Linked DNA regions of Homo sapiens. The protein of the gene in region 3 interacts with the protein of the main gene of each other region in a biochemical or structural test. Each region holds a gene or a part of one and is shown on either strand. Other genes may lie near its edges.

Region 1 (7,027 bases), on a different chromosome or scaffold from region 3:
ATCTCCTAAGATGACTATAGTAGAGGTGCATTGGTGGGTCAGGGACATGGCACATAGCAGAGCCTCAGTTAGAGGCAGAGGAAGACATGGCTGTTGTGAGGATCAAATGGAAGGATCCATGAGTGCTTAGAACAGTCCTGGGTCCAGAGCAAGCACGCAAGAAATCCTCGTTGTGGTTTCATGTTTTTGAGCTTTAGCAGGATTCTAAAGAGCTGCTCTTTGGTGTGGTGATGCTGGGTGGACTTGGCCCTCCCTGGACTTCCGGTGCTTCCACGGCACACTGGTTTTGGCTTTGCGGTTCTCGTCATCGCTCTGATCAGATAGTTGCTGGTGTGAATTGTGGTGTCTGGCTGCCCCACCAGACTATAAACTCCGTGAGTTCTGGGACCTGGGTAGTTTGTTCAGCCTTGTTTGTCTCACTATGTCTCACATGGTGACTGGCACAGAAGAAATGCTCAATAAGCATTTGTTGGATGAGTGAAATGATGGGCTTAAAACAGCGCTACAATGATGATCATCAATGTCAGCCAGATCCCACTCTCTTGCCTTCCTTCCTCTCTGCCCTCCTCACTGCGTTGTCTTTGGTCCTTGTATTTGCCCCATTATAACCCAAACTGGCTGTCCCAGCTTCAGCTGTCATGTCTGCACTTACGTGTCTGAAGCTGGAGGCAGGAGGAGAAGAGGTTTTCCTCAGTGCCCTTGTTTCTTTTATCCAAAAGCAAAACTTCCCCAGAAACCTCCTGGCAGACTCCCCTAGTTCAAGGAAAGCTGGGAAGACAAGTATGTAGTGGAAAGAGATGGGAAAGCCAAGATGGACCTAGACCAGTGATTTTTCTCTTGGGGTGTGGCACACTCCTGCTCCAAACAGAACTGAGGCTCTGGTATAAATGAGTTTCTCAGCCTCAGCACTGTTAACTTTCTGGCCTGGAAGATTCTCTGTGGTGAGGGGCTGTCCTGTGCACTGTAGGATGTTAAGCAGCATCCCTGGCCTTTACTCCCCAGATGCCAGTAACATCTCTTCCCATCAGTTTTGCCAAAGAAAAAATGTCTCCAGAAAGCCAAATGTACCCTGGGGCACATATAACCCCACTGTGTTATAGGAGAACAAGGTAGTTCTGGGGAGTGTCTACCACAATGGAGTAGAGTAGACTGTGACTCTTGTGTTGTTCTGCTTTGAGTGCCAGGATCTTGCTCAGTGCCAATCTGGTACTACCCTGAGTAACTCTGAGGATGAGATGCTAAACATGCATATCTGTGTGCTAACCTGACTCCTGGCCTTATTACTTTTCTACCCTTATTTTCCCTTTAACAAGTTTCCCTTGGTTATTTATTTTGCTTCTTTGGTAGTTGCTCATTTCCGTAAGTACCTCGAATCTCCTTAAAGGAAAGGTCTGTATCTATCTCATTCTTTTTGTTATAGTCCAGCCTTCCACAGGGCCTGATCCCATGTAGACCTTGATTGAAGATTAATTAAGTGGATGAATGAATGGGAAGATGGATGGATGAATAAATGTATGTTTAGGTGGGTGGATAGGTGAATGGACTGATGAATGAATGTGATGTGATGAATGGATGTGATAGATGGGTGGAGGGATGCATGAATGGAATAGAGGGAGAAATAGCTGGATGGATGAGACAAATGAATGAGTAACTGGGGAGATGGCTGGGTGGATAGATGGGTGGATGGATTAATAAAAAGATGTTATGGGTGGATGGTTGGGTGTGGAGGATGATGCATGGATGGGTAAGTAGATGGATGGAAAGATATGTAGGTGCATGTGATAAATGGATGAATAAGTAGCTGGATAGATGGGTAGGTGGTTAGGGGAAGGATGGATGGACAAATGATGTGATGAGTGGGTTGATGAAAAGATGGATGAATGGATGGATAAGAAGGGGTGGGCTGAGGTAGCCTGGAATAGCAGCATCTTCAAGTGCTCTAAACAGGACAAGTGAAGAGATAGGGGATGTCAACAATCTTCCATCAGGGCAATACTGTATATCTGTTTTTAAGTGCCAGGTGAGCCTAATTTTTCCTAGCTATGTAGGCCTAGTCCCTTTGACCAATAGCATCAGCTTGAGGACAGATCAGAGGCCATTGTCGGAGACAGTTTGGTGATGTGGCTCTGCCCCTTGAAGCTCTATGATGATGGTGCTTTGCTTCACTTCTCTGGTCCTCAGTTTCTTCACCCATCAAATGAGCCTTGGTTGTTGTGAAGATTCCATGAGCTAATGAAAGAGAAAAGGTAATAGAAGCTATAACAAACATGCCGTGTCCTTGTGAAGGGTGGATAGGCCCAAAATCGAGTAGGACCCCAGATGCTGGCTGGCTATGGGACCGTGTCCAATATCAGGCTATGGCTGTTCCCACCCTTCATTCTTAAAATATGGCCCCTCTCCAGCCCTTCCCCTATCTCCCCTCCCACATCACCTTCCCATCCTACGTCAATTCAGTCTTCAGCCCCTATGATTCACAAACCTGGTTGCACATAGGAAACTTTTTAAAACAATTTTGGGGCTCCACTCCAGACCCAGTGAATCAGTCTCCTGGGGTGAGTTCCAAGAGTCTGTAATTTTTTGAGCTCCTTGTGTGACTTAGGGTATGCAGTTCAGTTGAGGTATGGAAACCATTGCCTTACTTTCTCCCATTTAGTAAACAGAGGAACTAAATATCCAGAGTGCATCTTGCCTCAACCCAGAAGCCTCCCGTATTCATTAATTCATTGTTCATTTGTTCATTTCTTCAACAATCTTCCACTGGAGGCTTATGGTATTTAAGACATTTTGTAAGGCACTGGGGAAACACAGGAGGATAAAACTTTGCTTCACGTGGTGGCTCATGCCTGTAATCCCAGCACTTTGGGAGGCCAAGGTGGGTGGATCACCTGAGGTCAGGAGTTAGAGACCAGGTAGAGGCAGAGGTTGCAGTGAGCCAAGATCACGCCACTGCACTCTAGCCTGGCGACAGGAGTCAGACTATGTCTCAAAACCAAACCAAAACAAAACAAAACCAAAAAAAAACAACAAAAAAAACAACTTTGCTTCAGATCTTAAACTGTGCTCAGTTTGGCAGGAGGACAGACAAGCCAGCAGCAACCAAAGACAGAGTGCCATGATAAGGACAGCAAAGGCACTGTGGGATACAGAGGGACTTAGGAGAAGGGGAAGGGGTCACAGACTTCTTGACCTTGGAGGAGTAGACTGATATCTAAGCTGGAACCTCGGTTTAGCAGGAGTCAGCCGGGAGAAGAGACGGTGGGGAAGAGTGTTCCCAGCTGAGGGAACAGCATATGAAAAGGCCTGGAGCCTGGCCACACACTGCTCTGATTTTACTTATATTTGACTGCAATTAATTCCATCCTTTACTGAAAGTATCTTGAGACTTGTCTGGTTGTTTCATGATTGATTAATCTTATTCCTAAAAGCATGCTGAGGCTGGGCATGGTGGCTTATTGTGGATTACACGCCTGTAATCCCAGCACTTTGGGAGGCTAAGGCGGGTGGATCACTTGAGGTCAGGAGTTCCAGACCAGCCTAGTCAACATGGTGAAACCCTGTCTCTACTAAGCATACAAAAATTAGCTGGACGTGGTGCCAGGCGCCTGTAATCCCAGCTACTCGGGAGGCTGAGGCAGGAGAATCACTTGAACGCAGGTGGTGGAGGTTGCAGTGAGCCGAGGTTGTACCACTGCACTCCAACCTGGGCAACAGAGGGAAACTTGTCTTAAAAAAAAAAAAAAAAAAAAAAAGCATGCTGAGATGCTTAAGTGAAGGAATTGTGCCTTCCATTTTTCCTGACTCATATGCCTGTAGCATAAGGATGGGTCAATGATAACGAAAGGAATTTGTTTTCATTTAAGCCCCTTTTATGTAATGGGCAAGATGTTGGCTATTTGATATGTTTTCTCCCTTTTAAGCCTTGCAATAACCCATCCAAGTAGGAAATATTATCTCCATTTTATAAACAAAGAAATTGAGATTCAGAGTTGTTAAGTCACGTTTCCCTGCATCGCCTTGCAAATAGGTGATTAAAATCTAGTCTGACACCAAATCTTCATTCTTTCAGCTATTATGTCATAATAGCATCCAAGGAGTTTACCACCTTCTACCACCTACTAGCTGTGTGACCTTGAGTGAATGACTCAATTCTCTTTTTTTTTTTTTTTTGAGACGGAGTCTTGCTCTGCTGCCCAGGCTGGAGTGCAATGGTATGATCCTGGCTCACTGCAACCTCTGCCTCCTGGGTTCAAACAATTCTCCTGCCTCAGCCTCCTGAGTAGCTGGGATTGTAGCTGGGGTTACAAGCGCCTGCCACCATGCCTGGCTAATTTTTTTTTATTTTTAGTAGAGATGGGGTTTCACCATGTTCGCCAGGCTAGTTTTGAACTCCTGACCTCAAGTGATCTGCCCGCCTCGGCCTCCCAAAGTGCTGGGATTACAGGCCTGAGCCACTGCGCCCGGCCGACCCAATCTTTTTTGCCTCAGTTTCCTCATCTGTCAAATGGGGTTGATGATAATACCATTTACTTCACAGGGTTGTTGTGAGACATAAAGTCAATATTTGTAAAGTGCTGAGTGTCTAGCACATAGAAAGTGCTATGTGAATTTGAACGATTATTATTATTATACCTATAGTGTGTGCATCTACTATATGCAAAGGACTGGATGCTTACTAGGTGTTAGCATCATTTTGGCTGTTGTAGAAACAACAGAGATGAGTAAGGAATAGATAACTGGTCCCAGGATGCAACTGTCTCTGGCTGGAGACTAAGGACAAGGCTTTGTTGCAAGCCTTCTGGGGCCCTGGGATGCCCAGGGTCTCCTCTTGGGGGTGCTGGTTCATAGATGGGGGCCTGTGTGGCTCCTTCACAGAGGAGGAGGCAGATGAGAGGCATAGAAAGGGAGGGGACAGACCTATCCTCATCAGAGACCTGGGAGATGGCTCTGGCCCTGGCCCTGGGTAGCTGTTTGTGACCTCACTCAAGTCCTTCTCCTGCTGTTTCTCCATCTACTCTTTTTTTTTTTTTTTTTTTTTTGAGACAGAGTCTCAATGTCACCCAGTGGCTCTATCTCTGCTCACTGTAACCTCCACCTCCTGGGTTCAAGCAATTCTCATGCCTCAGCCTCCCAAGTAGCTGGGATTGCACGTGTGTGCCACCACACCTGACAAATTTTTGTAGTCTTGGTAGAGATGGGTTTCACCATGTTGGCTAGGCTGGACTCCTGGCCTCTTGTGATCCTCCCACCTCGGCCTCCCAAAGTGCTGGGATTACAGGTGTAAGCCACAGCACCCAGCCTCCATTTCCTCTTTTGAGAAATGGAGGTATGACAACCATCTGGCTCAGCCATTGTCACACAGTATTCCCTGGGTCCTAAGAGTCAGGAAAGATGCTGCAGGGTTCCCTTTGAGGGTAATGTGGGTAGGGACGTGTTCAAATGGACTAGGGCTTAGCCTCTCCCCACCCTTCAACCTCTGGCTCCATCAGAGACACTTCTTTTTGACTTTTGTATATTTCTTTTTATTTTATTTTAGAGACAGGGGTCTCGCTATGTTGCCCAGGCTAGCCTCAAACTCCTGGGCTCAAGCAATCCTCCCGCCTCAGCCTCCCAGCCCCTGGGATTACCTGCTCATGCCACTGCACCCGGCACTCTGTTTTGACTTTTAAATGAAATATTTAATGGAGGGTCTCCACAGTTCAAAAATATTTGGAAAATCAGAAGACCACACCAGTGTGTTTCAAACTGCAATCTTAACCCAGGAATAGGTCATGCAATTTTTTTTTTATTTTTTTTTTCTAGATGGAGTCTTGCTCTGTCACCCAGGCTGGAGTGCAGCGGCACGATCTTGGCTCACTGCAACCTCCGCCTCCTGGGTTCAAGCAATTCTCTGCCTCAGCTTCCTGAGTAGCTGGGATTACAGGTGCCCACCACCGCGGCCAGCTACTTTTTGTATTTTTACTAGAGACGGACTTTCACCATCTTGGCCAGGCTGGTCTTGAACTCCTGACCTCGTGATCCACCTGCCCCGACCTCCCAAAGTGCTGGGGTTACAGGTGTGAGCCACCGTGCCCAGCCGGTCCTTCAATTTATTGGGATTATATTAGTTCAGACAATATAGCTTATGTAACAAGCAAATGCAGACTTTAAGTTAGAAGTTTATTGACCTCTGTGGCATAGTCATCCAGGGACCCCTAAGGTCACCCTAGCCCAGAAAGACACTTTCACTTCTACTCACATTCCATTGGTGAGAACTAGTCACATGGCCCTTGCCAAATGCAAGGGGGTCTGGAAGATGTGGTCCCTAGCGGGGCGGGACTAGCTGTAAAGTTTGTAAAGGGGAGCGTGAATTAGTTGGTACACAGTTGATCGTCTGTGCAGTAGGGTCATGCTCACACGTCCCTCCACACACACACGTTAAATATGTATAACAAGTGTAAATATACAATTTAAAAAAGTATCTTTTTTTTTTGGTTTGTTTTTGTTTTGTTGTTGTTTTTGAAACAGGGTCTTGCTCTGTCATGTGGGCTACAGTGAGCCACAATCATGGTTCACTGCAGCCTCAACCTCCCAAGCTCAAGCAATCCTTCCATCTAAGCCTCCCAAGTAGCTGGGACCACAGGTGCATGCCACCATGCCCAGCTAATTTTTTATTTTTATTTTTTTGTAGTGACAGGTCTTGCTGTGTTGCACAGGCTGGTTTCCTACTCCTGTCCTCAATCTTCCTGCATCAGCCTCCCAAAATGCCGGGATTACAGGTGTGAGCTACTGCACCTGGCCTTTACAATTTTTTACATAAAATGTTTCAATAAAAAAGTGCATAGATAGATACAGAGATAGCAATAAAGCAAATGTGACAGAATGCAACCAGTTGGTGAATTTAGGCGAAGGGATACATCAGTGCTCACTATACTAGTCTTTCAAACTTTAAAGTTTGAAATTTTTCAAAGTAAAATATTGGAGAAAATGAAATTCTTAAAATTTACTAGACCTATAAGTAGACTAAAACAATAAGTTATAACTAAAGTAA
Region 2 (6,907 bases), on a different chromosome or scaffold from region 3:
GCTCAAACATCTGCTCTGGTGGAAGGCTGGCAACTGCTTTGCTAATGGACTCAGGGGCATCCTCAGGACTGATGGTCTCTCCATAAGGTGACTCAATGACAGGGGCACCAGTGCCAAGGCCTAATCAAGAAGAAAGTACAAGAAAGTTAGGGAGGCAAAACAAAAAGCTAAATCATTTCAAATATCTACTTTTCAGGGCTGCTGTAAGAACCAGCTGATAATTTTAGATTCTCCAGAGCTGAGAAATAAATGATGTGAAAGCCTCTTGTTTCTGTGGAGGAAAGTGAGAGTGTATTTTCTGTTCTCAGAGGAAAGCTGGGGATCATGATCACATGGAAGGACAATGTTAACCTAAGTTAGAGAACTAGGCACATTGACTTCTTTTAACAAGTCATTTCAGAAACAAAAGGTTAAAAGAGAAAAATACGCTAACTTCAAAAATTCCTGAAAAGAGTGACAGGAATGACTAATGCCACAGTTAGTACTACTAATGGCTTGATGAATTTGAATTCATCTTTAACTGGAAATAACTCCTTAGCAATGGAAATTCTTTTTTTTTTTTTTTTTTTTGAGACAGAGTCTCACTCTGTCGCCCAGGCTGGAGCAACTGAAGAATTTCTAATGTCAACTTTATCTGTTTCTTAAAGATATACACTTACTAGCAAGCCTCCAGCATGCTTAGGTCTGCAGTGACCCTATGCATCCCTACAGTGCTTGCCAGAACAGTTTTGAAACGGTTTGAGGCCTTGCCCTGCTCCATCCAGAGCAAGGGTATAGAAATTTCAGACAATTACTTGAAAAAAAATTTATAAAAAGTTTTTAAAAAGATATATATAATACTTGCCTAACTCAGGCACATCAGGTCAGTCAAGTAATAAACAAGCTGCGTGGCTAACCATTTCAGCATATTCTAAAACATATCAGAAATGGAAAATCTTCATTGTTACATCTTTACTAACTCATACTGCATCCAAGTTGGATTTGTACTCACTCTTCAGCTCTTCTTTGTTCTTTTCACTGGCAGCATTGTCCACTCGAAGTGCTCTCCCACTGAATTCGCGCCCATTCAGGTTCCGCATGGCACTAAGTGCTGTCTCTTGGTCTTGGTATTCACAGAAGCCATAACCCTTTGGCTTTCCTGTCTCTCTATCGTATACCAATCTGGAGAGCAGAACCAAGTGTCAGGAACAAATGTTACACACATACAGGGTTCCTGCTAACATTGCCATGCTTTAATTGGGCCCACTGTAACATAAATAACCTTATATCTCTGACAGCCTCACAGAAATATTTTTTAAAACTTTTTTTTTTTTTTTCCTGAGATGGAGTCTTGCTCTGTTGCCCAGGCTGGAGTGCAGTGGCATGATCTTGGCTCACTGCTATCTCTGCCTCCCGGGTTCAAGCAATTCTCCTGTCTCAGCCTCCTGAGTAGCTGGGACTACAGGCATGGGCCACCACGGCGGCTAATTTTTGTATTTTTAGTAGAGACAAGGTTTCACCACATTGGTCAGGCTGGTCTCGAACTCCTGACCCCAGGTGATCCGCCTGCCTCGGCCTCCCAAAGTGCTGGGATTACAGGCTTGAGTCACTATGCCCTGCCTAAAAAACATTTTTAACGAAAAAAACATATTTTAGGTAAGAATAAATGTCAATTGTATAGTGTATCAATTATATCTCAATAAAGCTGTTACAAGAACAAAATGTATGTGAAAAGTCACCAGTAAAGAAAACCTGCCATTATTACTAAGAGCCAAATCTGTGGTGATTTTTAAGAAGCTCCCACCATGAAGGAAAAGGGGATCTCACCTGAAACTAACAACAGGTCCAACCTCAGAAAAGATGTCCTTCAACTGCTCTTCAGTAGCTTCATAAGGAATGTTCCCCACTAAGGAAGAAAATAGGTAACATTAAAATTCTGAGTTTATAACATAGATCTTTAGTGAGAAAGTAAACTTATATCATCAAATATAAGACTCAAAATAGTGTTCTCCAATCCCAATTCCATTGTATTTCTTCAGACCTCTTAACAAAGGAAATATACCACTGAAACTAAATACAAAATGTGTAGGTACTCTCAAATGTTAGTTCTCAGACTGATCTGACACGTGTTAGATTTTCCTTAACTTTGGTGCAAATAAATACTTTGGCACTGGTATTTACCTAAAGATCTGCAAGTCTCATCAGTGACTACAAAAAATATCAATGTTATTTAATATAATTTTTAAAACAGGTTCCTATGTATTTCCACACATACAACATTTAAGGGAGAATGACGATGAATGTAGTGAAAGATGTTTAAAAAGTATTCTGAACTACTTTGTCATGTCCCTTTCAAATGGTACTCTAAAATAATCACACGTATTTTTAAAAACAACTTATTTCAGCCAAAAAGATAATTCAGAATCGTTTCGATCCTTTTTAAAATTCCTCTGAGGAGATCTTAATAGTTCATTCATTCATTCACTTACAAGCCATCTCAGGACACCAGGTGGCCGCTACCACTATTGATGCACTAAAATGTTACAGATAAAAAGCAAAGGATGAAAGTCCTTAGGAGAGGACAGTAAGTGGACACTAGGATCTATACCCTCAGCATATAGTCTGTATTCTGGGGCAGAGGATGAGAAGTAGTACGGGACAGTGAGGAGCTGTTACCGTGAGCCTTCTCCTCTAGAGAATAATTGAAGCTCATGAAAGGAGAAACGCACAGAAGCTGAACGCTAGTCTAACTTCCCCACTGATATTGCGGAAAGCCTACGAGACCTCGGCAGAATGGGAATATCTCTTTGCTCATGAGTCCACCAGGTTGGACGCCCTACAGGATAAGCAGGGAGAACTGCACGTCCGAACCGTCAGCGGCTCCGGTAGCGATTCATGAGATAGAAGGTGCAGAGGGGAGTCCCTCCCCGAAGCTTGACTACAACGAATTCCTCTCACCGAACACAGAACGTAGAGAACGATCCACCGCTGGGTCTCTCACAGTCAAACCCGCCATAGCTCTGTTGAGTCGGCTTCCGGTGCGCCAAAGCACACTTCCGTACGGAGCACAAGCCCAGCGCTGAGCACGCTTCCGTACGGCGCGTGAGCCGGAAGGGCCTGGGCGGAACGGACGCAGAGCCCCTCCCCTGGAGACATTCTGTTAGCCGCAGGCGCGAGTTGCGTCCACCGGAGGGCTATATTCTCACTCCTGAGATTAACTCTGTTCCGAGCCAGATGCAGGCGAGTCCAGGCTAATTTGAAGGGTTTCAGCCTGCAGACTTCCTTCTTATTAATTTTCTCTTAGGTTGATGCAAGTACTCCTCAACCACAATAAAGGCGCAGCGGCTTTACCATGGTAACAGGGAAGTCCTTTGCTGACAACTGTGGGGCTTGCATTTTAGTTCCGCCCTATCAAGGGAGGGAAATGCTTGGGCCCGTCCCAGCAGCGTGCATATTATTTGCTAAACCTGTTCGTGTGTGGAGTGAGATGAGGAAAGGGCATGCCAGCCGAGAGAAGCATAGTTAAAGAAATGGGAGAGGTAAAGGGAGAACAGACCTCTGTCCTCGTGTAGTCCGTGGGTTCCATGTGCTTCGTGGTGGGGCGGTGCGGCAGGGGATTCTGGCAGGCAGAGTATCGGAAACAGAAAACGTCATTCATCGGTTTTTCCACACTTTGGTGCCCACGCGCCTGGGATATGGCATGCAGGGCAGGTCGTTGTATCATCCCGGAAAGGCAGACCCTGCCGGGGTTGGAGGAAATCCAGGGGGCACCTCAGGAGGACAGGGTTAGGGGATAAGCAAAGGAAGGAGCCAAGAGCGCTACCTTTGAGGGACTTGTCCGAAAAAGGAAGACGGTAAAATAGCCACGGAATTGGAGGCATGGACGTTTTTATTAATTCCACATGTATTAAAAGTATATGGGCCGGGCGCGGTGGCTCATGCCTGTAATGCCAACACTTTGGGAGGCCGAGGCGGGCGCATCACCTGAGGTCGGGAGTTGGAGACCAGCCTGGCCAACATGGAGAACCCCTTTTCTACTAAAAATACAAAATTAGCCGGGCGTGGTGGCGCATGCCTGTAATCCCAGCTGCTCAGGAGGCTGAGGCCAGAGAATCGCTTGAACCCGGGAGATGGATGTTGCGGTGATCCGAGATCTGCCATTGCGCTCCAGCCTGGGCAACAAGAGCGAAACTCCATCTCCAAAATAAAAGTATATGAAATATGATAAATATTTAGAAAAAATTAATAAGTGCTAGTTTACACCATGAAGCATATCACTTTAAGAAGTAATTCTGGTAAAGATGGAAAGTTTGAGAAGAGTATACCCATTTCCATGACTCTAGAGTCCCATTTGCAATCACTGTGTGACCAAGAGGACACCTTGTGTAATGGAATGGTCCAAAAGGAGATTTACAGCTCTGTAGAAGGCACAGTTTCAAAGAGTTTTGGTGTGTCATTGTTCCGTTGTGGTGAACTTTTGCTAAATGCATGTACGGCTGAGTATATTTCTAACTCAGTGTTTGGCAAACTTACATAAACAAAAGATTAACCTGGGGTCTTTGAGTAAGAGTATAGATTCCTGGGGCTCCACCCCAGCCCTATGGAATGGGACTCCAGGGAAAGAACTTGGGAATCGTTATATTTAAACAAGTGCCACTGGCGATTCTTAGGGTCAGGTAATTTGAGTAGCATTGTAGTTATTGAGGTAGCTTTATGGCAGCATTTAAGACACGCATGCTTTCTTATGAAATTTCCCTTAAAGTAGTTCTCAAAGTTCTCAACCCTTGTGGAGGAGCATTTTTGGAAATGTACAGTGGCATTTTCAGTTGTTGCAATGACTACTGCTAGGGGAAGAGAAGCCAGAGATGATAAATGGACTGCCATGTCCAAGGCAGTTCTACAGGATGAACCCCTCCCCCCACTGAATGCCAATAATGTCTCTCCCCTTGAGAAACACTTAATATCAGCCATATTAGACCAAATGGACCCTGGATCTGAATGCTATGTTGCACTGCCAGCCTTGCATAAATAATTTTTACTTTAGCCTTCTTACAACTGTGTAGCTGATCCCAATGAGTTAGTAATAATAAAAGCTAACATTTATTAAGCACTTGCTGTGTCCTCATTGTATTAGTTTTCTATTGCTGTGTAACAAATTTCCACAAACTTAGTGGCTTACAACACTCATTTGTTAGCTCACAGTTCTGTAGGTCAGAAGTTTGGGTGGACATGAGTGGGTTCTTTGCTTAGGATCTCACAAGGCTGAAATCAAGGTGTTGTACTCTTATCTGGAATCTTTGGGAGAAGAATCAGCTTCCAAGCTCATTTTTCTTGTTGGCAGAATTTGGTTGGCTGTGGTTGTAGGACCGAGGTCCTTGTTTCTTTGCTGGCTATTGGCTGGAGGGCTGTAGCTCTTAGCTCCTAAGGGCTTCTTTTTGGTCCTTACATGTGGGTTTCTACATCTCAGAGCCAGTGATGGCACATTGAAACCTTCTTATGCTGTGAATCTCTGACCAGAGATTCTCTCTTTTGACCAGCTGGGGAGAACTCTGCTTTTAAATGGCTCTTGTGTTTAGGCAAGGCCTACCCAGATAATCTCCCTGTATTAAAGTCAACTGTGCTATGTGAAAACCTAATCATAAGAGTAAAATCCATTATAATCACAGTCTTAGGAATTATGCAGGGCAAATACATCAAGAGGTCAAGAAATCTTGGAGCCAGTCAACTGTACCCATTTTATTGATAAACATGTCTAAAGAAGTTTCAGTAACTTTGCCTAGGTCCCACAACAAGCAAGCTAAGGCATGGTTTGAGCTCAGGTTGCTCTGGCTCCAGAGACTGCTTAATTGTTATATCTCCTGCCTCTCAATGTAACTGAGGAAATATGGATGGCTCAGCATATTTTGTCACTGTTTTTAGGAAAGAGTACAGAACATGTGACCTGGTGATGGTGGGTCCGTGGCTCATAACAATGAGCTACTCAAGAAAAGGGTGGGGGACTTAGCCAGGGCTTGTTCTGCTATCATCAGCCGTCTGTGGGAAATAGACTATTGATTCTGTGACTTCAGCAACCAACTTCACTCTACTGGTTATAAAAGAGGAGGTGTGTGCAAGGGATGTATCCCAAGTGCTTGCTTTTTTATATTTAGATTTCACTTATACACTGTGTGCTAGTGACTCCTGCCTCAGTGCCTGTCTTGTGAGAGTCTTTCCCTTCATTGATATACTCCCTGAGTGACAGCATTTCCTTTGCCTCCAGTTTATAGCAAAATGAAGACAGAAGGTGGGATGTTTCATGCTGTTGTTGATGTTATGACTGAGCCTCAGTTAACGATGTAGGTATGATATGAAAAGGTAGGGGGAACACAAGCAAAGAAGCATTTCTACAAAAAACGGGACTAAATATATAGGGTAAATGTTATTTGGGGCTTTGAATGGAGGAGAAAGGGAACCTAGTGGAGAATCAAAGAATTTGGGAGACCACAGTCATGATTTGTGGGGCACTGGCAGAAAACTTTGTTGAAAAGTCCTGAGTTCTTAACCAGTCATGTCGATGACACTAAGAATCTTGAGTGAGGTAAACGTAAGTGAAACAAGCAGAGATATTCAAGACTGTGAAGGCACAGAGACTTGGGTTCTTTCTCCCAGTCATAAAAGATTAAATTTCTAAGGCTGGGGTACATACTACTTCATGTTTGATCCATGTTTGAACCTCTTCAAAGAGTCATGGAATAAAATCCCTCATTGGTCTCGCAGGGGATATCTGGAAAGGCAGCAACTCCTGGATAGTTGTCATTGCATGAAAAAGGTGCCAGATGAGACTGGTAGCATTACCTGTGTTAAGAGAAATCTTCAATGAGCAGCGCCTGCAAGAGCTAAGGAAACTTGTAGCCAGAGAGCACCTGAATGCTGACGTGGATTCTGATCA
Region 3 (6,984 bases):
GTCGGCCATCCTGACACACCACACAGATATCTCTACCCCAACTCTGTGGTGGAGGGAGGGGCGCTTGGGTTGCAGAGGAGCTCGGAGAGCTCGGCTGCCTGGAAAGCAAGGCACCAGTTTGCTTTGCTCTCTCAGATCCCTAAGCCCTCTGGGAATTTGATGCTTCCTTCCTTCCCCAGGGCTGGTGTGGGGACAGACAGCAGAACTACTTCTCTACTCCTTAGACACTGAAGAGGGGCCTCATCTCCTTTCTCTTCTGACTCCTCCCTTTCACAGTTGCAATAATCTCTACAGGCGAGTGGGGTGGGCTAAAAGGAACTATTTTTGTTTGTTTGTTTTTGAGACAGGGTCTCAAAAACACCCAGGCTGTCACCCAGGCTGGAATGAATGCAGTGGCGCACTCATGGCTCACTGCAGCCTCGACCTCTCAGGCTCAAGCAATCCTCCTGCCTCAGCCTCCTGAGTAGCTGAGACTACAGGAACTTACCACTACACCCAGCTGATTTTTTTCTTTTTCTTTTTCTTTTTCTTTTTTTTTTTTTGAGATGGAGTCTGTCTCTGTCACCAGGCTGGAGTGCGGTGGCATGATCTTGACTCACTGCAACCTCTGCCTCCTGGGTTCAAGCGATTCTCCTGCCTCAGCCTCCTGAGTAGCTGGGACTACAGGCACGCACCATCACGCCCAGCTAATTTTTGTATTTTTAGTAGAGACGGGGTTTCACCATGTTGGCCAGGATGGTCTCGATCTCCTGACCTCGTGATCCACCCACCTGGACCTCCCAAAGTGCTGGGATTACAGGCGTGAGCCGCTGTGCCTGGCCCATTTTTTTGTATTTTTTGTAGAGACAGGGTCTCACTATGTTGTCCAGGCTGGTCTGCAACTCCTGGGCTCCAGTGATCCACCCACCTCGGCCTCCCAAATTGCTGGGATTACAGGCAGGATCCACAGCACCCAGCCAGAAAAAAACTTTAATAGCACATTACCTTAAATCTGTAATTTATGCCTGGAATCCTAATAGTTTAAAAAAGTCAAAAGCCAAGAATCTGGTCTGTGTGTTCTGGTCTAACATCCTTCTTCTAGTCAAATGCTGTAGCTGAGAAAACGGGGGATGGGGAAAGAGTGAAGGTCAGAAAGCAGGAAGTGCTAGTAACAAAAGCCACATTGGGTAAGATTTCAAAATAATATCCTGATACTTGAATAAGCCTTTTTCGGAAGCTTTGAAAGAAGTGAGTAACGGAGGGTGTCGACAGCATAAGGCCTTGGAGGGAACCGCATTAACAGTCCCGTGCCATACTCCAGGCCTCCAGGAACTTCTTCCTGGCAGTCTCCTCCTCAAGCTCTGTCCCTTTCATAGTTTGTGAGCTATTTCCCTTCTCAGCCCTACTTCCCAGTCTACCTCCCTTTCTGGGACACCTACAGATTCTCCAAATTCAGCACATTCCTTTTTGTGCCACCCTCTTCTTCCAGACCAAGGCTTGGAGTGGAAAGTGGGAGTTCTTTCACTTTTAAAGATGCCCTCTAGGAATTTGCCTATAAAAGGAGCTATTCCCCACCCCACAATGTACAAATGCATGTGAATTACACCTCCTTCCCATTCTATTATTTGAAAGCAACTGCTGTCTTTTTTTTTTTTTTTTTGAGACGGAGTTTCGCTCTTGTTGCCTAGGCTGGAGTGCAATGGGTGTGATCTAGGCTCAGTGCAGCCTCAGCTCACTGCAACCTCTGCCTCCTGGGTTCAAGCGATTCTCCTTGCCTCAGTCTCCCGAGTAGCTGACATTACAGGTGCCCGCTACCACGCCCGGCTAATTTTTTGTATTTTTAGTAGAGACGGGGTTTCATCAGGTTTGCAGGCTGGTCTCAAACCCCTAACCTCAGGTGATCCACCCGCCTCAGCCTCCCAAAATGCTGGGATTACAGGCATAAGCCACCACGCCTGGCCCCTATTTTGTTTAAAATAAAAAAGTTTCCTTCCTCTTTCATCTATGTAAAAAATTATTTTTGTTTATTTTCTTGAGTTATGTTTACCTTTTAAAAATGGGCAACGCTTAGGATCAAGGATTTTCGATTAGTTTTACAAAGTACCACACCCAGGAAAATTGAGCCAACAAATTTGCATGCAAAGTTTCAGGTCTCCCTACTTCTAAAAATGCATACCTCCTTAACAGCTCTCCACCTCCGACGCTTAGAGAACCGAAACCCAAACCTACAGCAGGCACACTGCCCAGGTTCCCTCAGTGACACAGAAACTGAATGAAAACTTGTTAAAGCAGGAAGGGTTGCAGATGGAGGGGATACCATATTAGTTTAAGTGTACGTGGTTTACCTTGAATATTAAGCATTTCTTTAGCTAGGTGTGGAGCTGCGCAGTGTCCCATGACAATGCATAATGTCAGTGTTTCTTTTCTTTTTTTTTTTGAGACGGAGTTTCACTCTGTCATCCAGGCTGGAGTGCAGTAGTACAATTTCAGCTCACTGCAACCTCCACTTCCCAGGTTCATATGATTCTCCTGTCTTACCCTCCTGAGTAGCTGGGCACACGCCACCACGCCCGCCTAATTTTTGTGTTTTTAGTAGAGACGGGGTTTCACCATATTTGTCAGGCTGGTCTCGAACTCCTGACCTCAGGCGATCCACCCGCCTCGGCCTCCCAAAGTGCTCGGATTACAGGGGTGAGCCACCGCGCCTGATGTCAGTGTTTATTTTCATGGCTTCTTTTATTTCATTATGATGGAGAGTTTCACAACAAACTAAGGGATTAGTTTGTATTTTTGTCAGCATTTAATCCTTTAAAAGTCAGGTAATTCTAGAAAGGGACGTGTGGGGGATGCTTTCACGTTTAGTGTTCAGACTTTGATTCCATCCGCTGTGTTCTTTGCGTCTCAACCCCATTACACATTCCGCTCCCAGCTTTAATGTTTGCAGGGAATATATAACTCTCTTCTCCTATAAGGGTGGGATGGGTGGGAACCACAGGTCTAACTGCTCCATATGTAGATCCAAACACTCCTCCCTTTCTGCAACCCACTGCCCTTCCTTAGCCTCTGTGGCATCTCCGATGTGCAATTCTGAGCTTCGACAGGATTCCATCCTCTACTTTGTAAAATCCCATACCATTCCTCTACCTGAGGCAGGAAAATAGGGTCTGGAGGGAGAGAACATAAGGACAATTCACGCTTCAGCTGTAACAGGAAATATCCTCTCCATAGGGCGTTAACTTTGGTTTCCTCGTCTATAAAATGGAGAGAACAGTCATTTCTGCTTTGGAACATGCTTGTTAGGATGAGTAATGTAAATTGCCTCCTGCAGCGTCTGACACGTAGTGGGTGCTTGATAAATCTTTGTTAATAGATATGCCTTTATATTGATTCTTAGCTGTAGGAAGTATTCATTCAAATACATATTCAAATAATCTTTTAGCTATATTCCTGCTTGTATATGGATTCCTCTTGCCTTCTGTGAACTCCCTTACATCTCCAGGACTTCAATACAGGAATAAGGAGTACTCCAAAGATTTCTTGCACTTTCTGGAATTAAACGCTGTGACTTTAGCTTCCTTCCTTTGGATTTTAGGAGGCAGAGGCATGTATTGAGGTGGGTGAAGTGGGGTAGGAAGACCATTTCTGGGAAAATGGGCCAGAGTATTGATCTTTTTCATTATGACCCCTTCGCTTCATTAGAGTAAACATTTATTGAACAAACGCAAAGCTTGGCGCTTGTCACTCATGTTTTATTGGCGTTTTCCTTTTTTTTAATTTTTTTTTAAGCTATCTCCTACAGGAAGGATATTAGCTCTTTCATTCTCTCAAGGGTCAGATGTAATCTTCCAACATCTGACTTTCGCGTCACCCATTTAGGAAGAGACGCGGTCCCTTTAAGGCCCTGGAAAGGGTCTAAGTGTTGGTTTCTGTGGGGAGGCCACGCCCCATCACGTGACCGCAGCCCCAGCGCGGCGGGGCCGGCGTCTCCTGGCTGCCGTCACTTCCGGTTCTCTGTCAGTCGCGAGCGAACGACCAAGAGGGTGTTCGACTGCTAGAGCCGAGCGAAGCGTGAGTGCGCGGGACCCCCTACCCCTACTCCTCGGGGCCCCCACCCTCCCAGCCGGGCCGTGAGCTGCCTTCGGCCCTCCACTCCTCTCGCCGGCAATGGCCGCGGGAAATGGCGGCTCTGCCTTACCTCCCCCTTCCCCTCGGCGTCCCCGGCCCCCTTCTCCGTTTCTGACTCCACGCCTGACGCGCTGTGGGCCCTTCCGCGGTAGACTCCTGTCCCCGGGGAGCCGAGTCGAGGCGGCGGGCGCTGCGGCCCGGGGCGGTAGATTGAGGGCGGCCGGGGAGTGAGGAGTCGCGGGGAGAGAGTCGCGGCGTCCCCGGGACAATGCGGCGGCGGCCTGCCTAGGTGGGGCGCGTGCGGTTACCTACTCTTCCCCCGCCCCTCGCCCTGAGCGGGGCGCTCTGGAGACTGGGAGAGCGGATGCGGGCGGGAGGGGGCCGGGGGAAGAACGGCTGATGTGCAGGGGGAGGGAACGCTTCGAGAGAAGAAAATGGCGCTTGGTGCAAATCCCGCCCCTTCCCACGCCGTCTTCTCCGCACTTCGCCGCCTCCCACGCCCCCTCCGACCAACCTGTCTCCCCTCGCCCGAGCGGCTGCTAGCCACGGGGTTCTAGCGGCTTGCTGGGGCCGCGCGACCCCTTCCCTGGTCTTGTGCTTGTCACCTTCCTGTTATACCGAAGTCGTGTGCCCTTCAGTCCTGGTTCATTTTCACCTCGTTTTTTTCTGATCTTTCCCTCAATCAGCAAAGGCTGAAGATTTCGTTTCTCTTTTTAAAGTTGCGTTTTGTATAAATTCTACAATAGTGGTTTCAGTATCAGTTACTTGAATTACAAGCTGCTTCTCCCCCCACCCCCACATTGGAACAGGCTCATTAAGGTAAATATATATTTGTTAAAAGTTTAGAGGCTGGTTTTAGTTACCGTTACCTTTCTTCTCCAGTGGACTTCTTTGGGTTGAGTACCAGGTGGTTCTTTGAAAAATTCTTAGGCCCCCAGGCAGTTTTTGATAACAGACGGTAGTTATGATCGACAGTTTCAAAGTGAAAAATTATGTTCAATTTAATTACCTTTTTAAAAAATATCTTTTTGTCGTATTAATTAGCATAAAAAACTTAACTAAATTGATTTTAGAGATGAGGTTGCAAAATGGAGCAGAAACAGGAAAAACGGATAAAACGTGGTCATGAACATTGCTTTTCCCTTCTGAATTTACCCTTGAAGACATTACCAGTTAAAATCAGATTGAGCTTTTTGAATTTAATGGCTAGGATTGGGGTGGCCCACTTCTTTTTCCTTGACCTCCTATTTTGGAACATATGCAATGTCAGTGCTAATGCAAGTTTCATCTAGAGAGCTAGATTATTTATGATTTTTTTTTAAGGAGGAATTTTAAGTCTTTTTTTCTTGTATTAAACAAATACAGTGTGTGATGTGTTTATTAGGCCCTTTAACGCATACAGAAATTAGCTAATTTATGCCTAGTGTTCCATTATTGGAACGCTAAGCATGTGGGAGTTATTTATGTGCTACTGCTCAAGATCATCGCCAAGGTCTGCTTGCATAAATTCAAAAAATTGCAACCTCTGGCATAAATGGGTTAATAGGACCTAATCTCTTCTGAGATGGGGAGAGCAAAAGATATTTTGATAATCAGCGTTTTATGACCTGGTGTTATAAGTGCCTTGAATAGAGGTATCCACGTATCTTGGAATTCCTTGAAATTTGGGGCTTAGGCTTACTGATAGTTTGCTTTCTGCAAACTTGCACTCAGGCACTCAGTAAACACCCACTTGTAAGCAAGGCACTAAGTTATCTATGTCTCTGGGGGGACCTGGGAAGTTACCAGCATGGTAGGAATTTGCGGGAAGGTTTTGCACCTCCCATAAATAGGTTTTGCACCTCCCATAAATAGGTTCTTCAAATTTTAATTATGTTCCAGAGTAGAAAAATCTGTGTAAAATGTAATGAATTGCTGTGAATTGTGTAAGATTTTTTTTTTTTTTTGAGATGGAGTCTTGCTTTGTTGCCCAGGCCGGAGTGCAATGATGTGACCTTGTGTCACTGCAACCTCTGCCTCCGGTGTTGAAGCGATTCTCCTGCCTCAGTCTCCCGAATTGCTGGGACTACAGGTGTGCCACCGTGCCCTGTTAATTTTTGTATTTTTAGTGGAGATAGGGTTTCACCATGTTGGCCAGGCTGGTCTCGAACTCCTGACCTCAGGTGATCCGCCTGCTTTGGCCTCCTAAAGTTTTGGGATTACAGGCGTGAACCATCGTTCCCGGCCTGAATTGCGTATAATTTTGTGTACTCTTGAATTAGTACCTGTCGTTATTTTGGTGATACGGCCAAAAAGTCAAAATATGAATAAAATATTATGTAAAAATTAATTAGATGTCACATTTGCATAGTACAGCTAGTTCCCTGTTGTGTAAATGTTGGGGTCAGTTCCCCATAGTGAATAATTTTACGTTAGTTCCAATCTCGTTGATGAGAAGTCTAAAGCAGTAATAGTAGAATTACATTTCTTCTGGTTTTAATAGTAATTGTTGTCTGCTGCCTTCTTGCAGTTTACCCTACCCATAGTGTGTAATGCCATTAAAACGAAGTATAGAAAGATCCATTGGCCTGGAGAAAGGTTAGAGGTGTAGGAGTGTATGACATTTAGTTCATTGTTCTTACTGGGTTCAGCACATTGCACCCTGCGTGTTATTTGCAACTTAAAAGGGTATAGATTAAAACTTGTGCTCAGTGTAACAACTCAGTACCACAAAAATGGTAGAATGAACCGTGGAACTTGTCCTTGATTTTTTTCTTTGATTGGGGGAGAGCTAAGTTGAAAGTAGTAGAGTACCTTATTAATTATTTTTGTAATGTATTTTTCTTTCAGGATGCCTAAATCAAAGGAACTTGTTTCTTCAAGCTCTTCTGGCAGTGATTC

Evidence for each region.
Region 1: the proteins of SUB1 (region 3) and HNF4A form a complex in vitro, tested with the Homo sapiens proteins (one study listed by BioGRID).
Region 2: the proteins of SUB1 (region 3) and CSTF2 form a complex in vitro, tested with the Homo sapiens proteins (one study listed by BioGRID).

The regions. Positions count from the first base shown.
Region 1 is NC_000020.11:44,358,693-44,365,719, forward strand, and holds part of HNF4A (hepatocyte nuclear factor 4-alpha), read left to right. Parts: exon of another isoform or gene 1-2,229; intron 2,230-7,027. UniProt on the Homo sapiens protein: Transcriptional regulator which controls the expression of hepatic genes during the transition of endodermal cells to hepatic progenitor cells, facilitating the recruitment of RNA pol II to the promoters of target genes. Activates the transcription of CYP2C38.
Region 2 is NC_000023.11:100,816,505-100,823,411, reverse strand, and holds the start of CSTF2 (cleavage stimulation factor subunit 2), read right to left. Parts: upstream 3,022-6,907; 5' UTR 2,996-3,021; coding exon 2,938-2,995; intron 1,886-2,937; coding exon 1,807-1,885; intron 1,162-1,806; coding exon 992-1,161; intron 793-991; exon of another isoform or gene 660-792; intron 121-659; coding exon 1-120. UniProt on the Homo sapiens protein: One of the multiple factors required for polyadenylation and 3'-end cleavage of mammalian pre-mRNAs. This subunit is directly involved in the binding to pre-mRNAs.
Region 3 is NC_000005.10:32,581,579-32,588,562, forward strand, and holds the start of SUB1 (activated RNA polymerase II transcriptional coactivator p15), read left to right. Parts: upstream 1-3,978; 5' UTR 3,979-4,047; exon of another isoform or gene 4,048-4,393; intron 4,394-4,790; exon of another isoform or gene 4,791-4,923; intron 4,924-6,933; 5' UTR 6,934-6,934; coding exon 6,935-6,984.